2 linked regions of the Homo sapiens genome follow. The protein of the gene in region 2 purifies or fractionates together with the protein of the main gene of each other region. This does not show direct contact. Each region holds a gene or a part of one and is shown on either strand. Other genes may lie near its edges. The genes, in order: NAT10 and ZSWIM6.

What was found.
Region 1: the proteins of ZSWIM6 (region 2) and NAT10 purify together in Homo sapiens (affinity purification with western blotting; one study listed by BioGRID). This does not show direct contact.

What each region holds. Positions count from the first base shown.
Region 1 is NC_000011.10:34,108,481-34,112,300, forward strand, and holds part of NAT10 (RNA cytidine acetyltransferase), read left to right. Parts: intron 1-261; coding exon 262-353; intron 354-3,571; coding exon 3,572-3,743; intron 3,744-3,820. UniProt on the Homo sapiens protein: RNA cytidine acetyltransferase that catalyzes the formation of N(4)-acetylcytidine (ac4C) modification on mRNAs, 18S rRNA and tRNAs.
Region 2 is NC_000005.10:61,534,602-61,538,421, reverse strand, and holds part of ZSWIM6 (zinc finger SWIM domain-containing protein 6), read right to left. Parts: intron 2,939-3,820; coding exon 2,803-2,938; intron 1-2,802. UniProt on the Homo sapiens protein: involved in nervous system development, important for striatal morphology and motor regulation.

The sequences.
Region 1 (3,820 bases), on a different chromosome or scaffold from region 2:
AAGTGGTGAATTCTCTGTATTTAGATTGATTCGCAGACAAGCTAATACCTTTTGAAGCCTGGGGTGGTGGGTTGACCACAAAGTGAACTGTATGTGACCTGGCTTCTAGTCCAAACCTGGTCATTGCTCGCCTTAGAACCTTGGGCACTTCCCTTCCCTGGCCCTCAGTTTAGTTTCCACATCCGTCAAATGAGGTCTTAAGCCTGGCGGTCTCTAAAGTCTCTTTTGTGCCTGAAATTCTGTGACTTTTTTGTTTGGCAGGTGGTAATACTTCATCACATGTTATCCAAAGCAACTGTGAAGGCTCGGCCTTCAGTGCTGTGGTGTTATAAGAAAGAGCTGGGGTTTAGCAGGTAAGCTGGGCTCTTCATGTGTTTTATCCAACTTACAATTCCTGCTCATTAGTTAAATGCCAGGAAATGATTCCTTCACATATTTTTTAAGGGTCTTTAGTGGAGGTGCTATCTCTGAGGACAAATGGAGCTGATATCCTTTCTTCATTCCTGAAAATAAGTTTCAAATCATTTTCATGCTTTTTAAGTCACCAATCCAATGCCTTGCCTTCTGCATATGGTTTTCCTTCCTGCTTTTCTAGGCTGATTAAGCCCATCTCATTGCAAGTTCCTTCAAACTGTCTTTCCTACCTCAAATTTATTCCACTTTTCACTCTCTCTCTTTTTCTCCCCTTCTTTCATGGAGGGGGTATATGCCTCATCCCATGTCCAAGGAAAACCCCTTTATGTACCCTGTGTCTCCTCCCTCACCTCTTTCAGGACCTGTATTGTCTTTCCTCTGCTGGCCACCCAATACCCTTTGGAAACTTTCTCCTTCCTGTAAACATGCTCAGATTTTTCTATTATCAAAAGCTGATTACTTACATACCCAGATTTCTCTCTCAGGTTAGCATTTCCCCCGATTTTTATTGCCATATACCTTAAAACAGAAATCTTTTGCACTTAGTAGCCACTTTTGCAGTCTGGTTTCTGCTTCTATAATTGTGATCAAATTGTGCAGTTAGACATCCCCAGCAGCTTGATGCCTAATGCGTCAACTTTTCTCTCTCTTTCTCCTCCTTTTCAGAGCTCTGCCTCTTCTTCTACCAGTTCACTGCTGTATTTGACAGTTGGCTATTTGAAGCTGTGGTAGTCAAGACTTTTAGTCATAGATAACATACTTTCAACACAAATACAATTTGGCACAAAGGGATTTCATTGAGGTATATGGGATATTTCCTGGAATCCAAGGGGATAAGATTTCAGCTCTGCTCACGGGTGATCTAGAGTCACAGTACTAATGCTCCCAGCTCAGTTTGTCATCTCAGTGTATCTGCTCTATGCAGACCAACTTTCTCACTGCAGACCAGCTTTCTGTTTTCTGTTGTCCCCCTAGCAGAAACAACACTTGCGTTTTCCTTGTTTCAGGCCCAGCCATGTGGAAATCAGACTTTTTCCCAAAATTCTGGTGGAAAAATGCCCACACCTGGCCAGAGGAGGGTGGGGTTGGTCATAGCATAATACAAAGTTGGAAGTTCTACCTACAACTTTGTGTTTGGAGAAGTTTGGATGGGGTGGGTAGTGCTGTTCCTTGGCAGATAACCACCATGGCATCACCTAAGAAATAGTCTCCTTTTTTGGCTTCAGTGTCTTTACTCAGACCACCTTCCGGAGCTCTTCTCTTTCTCTGGATCTCGTCTCCTTACTCTAAACCTAGCTGGCTTGTGCGATTCTGTCCTTGAGCCTCTTCTAATTTCCAAATGTGCTCATCTCCGATCTGACTCTGAAAGCCTGTCTCCAGCTCTGGTTGCTTTATGCTGTGACTAACCTCCCTCCTTTTCTTTGCTCATGCTGTCTCCTCTGCTTGGAATGCCACTTCCACCTCCCCGGTATCACCTATTGAAATCCTGTTTCTCAGGGCCTGCCTCCTCCGTGAAACTTTTCCTGAGCCCCCCAGTCATACCTGGTGGTTCCTCTACCTTCCTCTGCACTTGTCCTTCTCCTATAATGTTTGCCAATGGATGCTTTTGCTTTAGGGTAAAGTCACTTACATACTGTGACTTACGTTCATTTTTTTTTCTTTCCCTTTTTTTTTTTTTTTTTTTTTTTTTACTTTCAGGTGATAAGCTTATTTAGTTAGGAGCCCTCTTCTATTTATCTTTGTATTTTCATACTTTTAACTGATTTAGCATGTTTATCATAGGTACTCAGTATACATTGAGTTGGATGTGTTGTTAACAGGCTCTAAAATTATTTTAATTTAAATTAGTACCAGAGGCTAAACTTGCCCCTGTCCTGTGGTCTTAAAGTGAAGGGATTCTGCCTAAAGGAAACCAGACAATCATAAGAGCCTTACTGATGAAATGTGAAAAGTGCAGAAAACCCAAAGATGAAAATAAAAAACATCTCACTGTCTAGGCATTGTCAGCATCTAGGTGTATCTTACAGGGATGTAGTTTTGAACCATAATTGGTATTCTGTTGTATATACTCTCATATTTAGAGAGGTAGGCATTTTTAATACAGATTGAGAATAAGGCCTGTTGTCTATCCCAGAATTTTAAGTTTTTAGGGCTTCTGGTTTTCACTATTTTTCATTTGGCAAATATGAGATGGGTGTGGAATTAGGCAGTTCAAAGTCTTCTGGGCAGATTTGCCTTTTGAATTTAAACCACCTGGCTTCACTTCTAAAAATCTACTTTTGTACCTCTTATAGCTCTTCTGCCCCACCCCTGTCTTAGTCTGGCAGAGCATTGTGTTCAAGCTAATGCCTGTTTGTAAGTCACGGGCTTAAGGCCTGAGCCAGAAGGGACAGTGGAGACAAACTCACCCACTGCCTTGGTTCATAGATGAGGAAGTGGAGGCCCACAGGAGGAAAGGCCTTTGTTCTAGCTATTAAGTTAGAGAACTATGGTAAAATTTTGATCAGCTGTAATCCTCCATTCTAGAACATTCTAATTCTCTCTTTTGGTAAAGGAAAGGTAAGTAGCAACTGGATATGCAGGGTTTTTAAGACCAAAAAAATTCAGGAATTCCTTAGAGATGTCCAGATTCCATTCTGATCCCTGTGTCCTGTATCATTATTGTCTTATGTAAGACCTGCCCTTGAAGACATAATCCCACATTCTCGGGGAGGAAGTCCTCTAGGAAGGATGAATAAAGTAACGTGCCATCACCTTGTCTTTCCTAGGATCTCTGGGGAACAGCACAGTGTAGTTGAAGCATTGGCTTATGACTGAGATAATGAGGCCACTCAGGTTTGGTTTCAAGCTCTGGCTTTGGCCAAATGTGAGGGTTAGCTACCCTATTACCCATCTTTTAAAGCAAAGTATTTGCTCAAGGTCACAGGGCAAAATAGCAGAGTTCACACATAGACTTATCACTTACTCCAAGCCCTTAAGCACTCTAATGCCTCTCATGCCTCTCCACTGCCCTCCACCTGAAGTGGGCCTCACACTTTCAAGTTCCCTACTAGCTCTGAAAGTCTAAGTGGGTGATCACTGAGCCTTTCCCCTGGTTCCAGCTCTTTAGCTGCTCTGGTTAACTGGCTCTCATGGGATTGGGGGTGTGTGATTGCAGTCACCGGAAGAAAAGAATGCGACAGCTGCAGAAGAAAATAAAGAATGGAACACTGAACATAAAGCAGGACGACCCCTTTGAACTCTTCATAGCAGCCACAAACATTCGCTACTGCTACTACAACGAGACCCACAAGATCCTGGGCAATACCTTCGGCATGTGTGTGCTGCAGGTGGGTGGCTTCCTCTAACCTGTGATTGAAGTCAGAGTCTTGAGGGTTGCTTGGGCTGCCTGGCTTTCCACTGGGAA
Region 2 (3,820 bases):
AAACTGATAGTGAAATGGATATTTAAGACTGAGATCACAGTCAGGAAGCAGTGAGTACTTAAGATGAATAAGCTTAACCTATTTAAACATAAAACAAGAAGGGAAGTAAGACAAAAATTACCTCTTTTCCATCCATTCATACTTTCTGAACAATTAGTTTCTTATGACTCCAGGAATTTGACATTAGACTATGTTCTACCAACCATATTACAGAAGATAAATGTGACCTAAGTGTCTGTCCCTTGACAGTTTTGCATAAATTCAGAGTGATTTCTGATTTTTTATTAAGAATATACTGTCATGGCGAAACCCTGTTTCTACAAAATATAAATCAGTTGGGTGTGGTGGCATGTGCCTGTAATCCCAGCTACTTGGAAGGCTGAGATGGGAGGATCAGCTGAGCCTGGGAGCCATGATTACACCACACCGCACTCCAGCCAGGGCAACAGAGCAAAACCCTGTCTCAAAACAAATAAAAAAAGAATATGCTGATGAAAAAATTTCTAAAAGCAAAGCAAATATTTAGTAATCTCTTCTAAAAGTACCAAAAAGCTTAGTAGAGTACCTAAAGCTGAAATAATTTATTTACAACCATCAAAATGCCGGCCTTCAGTCAAGTACACCAGTGTTAAGAACTATGAAATAAGATAAGAGCTGGAGACCAAGAAGAGTCAGCTGGGTCTGGGAGTGATGCTGGCCTCAAGGCCCCACCCAAGAGCAATTATTGCCTGGTAAGCCAAATGGCTCATTCTCTTCTCCTTTTATTTAGGAACAAAAAGATGTCAGCAGTAGAGAAGGTGGCAAGGTAGGCAGTTAAGTAGTAAGAATAATGGCAGGGTTGCTATTTAGCTTTTTTTTTTTTAACTCAGAATATCCTCGTATTCACAGGCAGGTCTTGCCAGACTTACTGTAGAAGAAACTAATCAACATCCCTGGGAAGATGAGAAAATGAGTGCTGAAGATGACCTTCCTTAGCCTTCCTCTTCCAGAAGGACTAAGAAGCATGCGAGCTACATCTCTCTTTTCCTTCCTGTTCCCTGGGCTGCCTTGCAATACCTGGTGGGGCACATACCTGCCTTCCATGGCAGACCTTTGGCAGGATAGTAGTGGCAGATAGAAGAGAGAAAGTGGAAAAAAAATTCCCCTGTACCCTGCTAGTATTCCCCATTAAGAAACTGCCTTGGCAGCAACCAAGGACAAATATAAATGAGTTTGTGAGTGTTAGAAAAGCAAGCCTTTCTGCCTGGCACATACCATTACATAAGCCAGAACCACACAGAAACTTTATGCTATTTTACCCTTAAACTTTGCCAGTGGTAGTAGCAACAGCATCTGGTGGCACCATAACATTAACATCTTCCCTTTAAAACAAGATTAGAATTCCTAAGATTTGAGTAAGTATAGAGTTGAGCATATGTCTTCATAAGACAGCTTCCATTTCAGCTTCCAAAAATAAAAATAGGAACCCACTTATTTTAAAATCGTGCTCTAAAACATAAACCAAGTGGTATAATGTAATTTGGTGGGGGACTTTTGCTGATGTTTGTTATTGACTTATTTTCTGGTATTTTAAAAATAGAAAAAAGAATACTTAAGAAGATTCTCCAGCAGGTTAGTAAGATTCCATATTGCCAAGGAAAGCATGTCAAATTACAGGATGTCAGCCTTAAAACACACTGACACATAGGTATACACACAGACACATACACACATCCTTATCACTGCATAAAAAAGAGGTGTCCTTATACACATAAGCTACACTCAATACTTTCAGAACAGGGTAACTTTGGGGACACTGGTAATTTATAGGCAAGGATTTGTTTTAGAATCTACTTCTCTGATTACAGACATAGAATCTTTGATGAAAAGCTTCTTGAGATCAAACTGTTAATCAGCACACACAAGCTTTTAGGTCTACAACATGGCTTGTCCTTAGGTGATCTGTACTTTCCATTAGAAGCACAGGAGTGTTTTATTAATTTTTTTAAAGGAAAAAGAAAATGCTGATGTTTTAAGAAAGATGGATGTACCTTTTAGGTCCTTAAAATTTAAAGGTTATTTGTAAGATTAAAATATAATCTTGAACTCATTAAAATATTCACCTTGAACAAATCTGTGATAAAAATAATTATTATGTGAAATAACTTTTAAAAGAAGGTAGAAATAAAAAGGTGGGTGGTAGAGAACAACATATTCTAACTGTTATTGCTGAAAAGGAGAGACCGATGAGGAGATGGAAGCAGTCAGAAGAGAGGCAGGCAGAGCCTGAAGGACCCCGAATAGCGACTCCTTCACTGCTAAATGCACGTCCCACCTTCTCTCAGCCTCCAGTGAATACAGATGTGCCTTGGCAATACAGGGAGTTGCTTTCCTGCACTACTGATGGAATGCGGAATTACAGCAGGTGTGAAGGTCTCCCTCAATTATATTCAAGCCAGTATATTTACTATTTACTACTGCTTCAAAAATCAATTTTTTCAAAACAATTAATCATTTATGAAGGTTTCAACTGTTGCTGTTTTATGATTAAACTTGGCTTGAATTGTGCTTCACGAAAAAGTAGGAAAAAGCCACGGTGTGCTTGAGTCTGATAGCAGCAAGGATAACCCTTCCCTTACTTTAAACAGAAGCAAAACAAGCCAACAAGCAAATCACCTCCACAACAATACAGGAAGCATAAATACATAGTTTCTTTAGCTTTTCTGCTGCCTATAAGAAACATGAAGGAGTAAGTCAGTTAACAGCCATGCTTCCCAGTGGGAATGTGGCCTGCCTCTGCCCAGCTGGGCTGTGAATACATACCGCATTGCTCTCAGTGCAATTTTGTATGCCAATTCAGCATCGTGAGGTAGGAGAGAGGTGAAGAGATACTTGGCAAATGTGTGCATTGGAACGCTCTCCCGATGGATTATTTCACCTAAACCACTATATGGTCCGGCTGTGGGAAGAGAGCATACACATTTTACGTTCCTAAAAAATGAACTAACACTTCTTGTAAAGCATATTGTTAAAATGTCACATAAAGTTATAACATATACAAATAAGAATTTCAAGTAAATGATATAGAAAGGAATATAATCCTTAATCAAAAAAGATTCTTCAGGGTATAGCATCCGTTACAGATTTCACCTCATAAACAAACCCCTAACTGTCCCACAGCTAGATGAAAAACCCAGAACTCAGGGGCAGACAGCATTCACAATACAAGTGCCTCAGAGAAAGGAACCCTCTATAGCGTAAAACCTTGCTGCATTTGAGCAACATCCTCTCTCAATGTGTGGCATCAGAGCATCTTGATTTGTAAATGCACAGATGACACCACAGCTTAACTATGGAAACTACCCCTGGACCTAAGAAGGGTTAGGGACACAAATATGCCAGGTTTCCAGAAAATGGTGCTCTGTATCAGGGGTGAGAGGTGTGGGAGGATTCTGAACCACAGCTCTCTAACTATACACATTGTTGCCTCTAATGAGTGGCAACAGATATTAATTCCTAGAAAGTGATTATTAATAAAAAGAATAGTTACCCATTTCATACGCATCATAGGCAAAAGAAAAAAATTAAAGTAACTGGAAGTTTACTATTCTTTGGGCTCCTGAAAGCCAATTTTAAAAGCAAAATTACACTTAAGCTGTCAAAATTCATTTCTTAGTAAATTCTGACAGGCGTGGTGGCAGAGCTGACTTCCCCTGTGTGCTCCCTGAATGCTGCTTTGAGAACGGCAACATAGACTTTTAAAATAAATTCTGAAAGGAAACCACAGTGGTTAGTTCAACCACTTTGCACTAAGGTACTCTGAGGTTTAGTTACTGTAAAG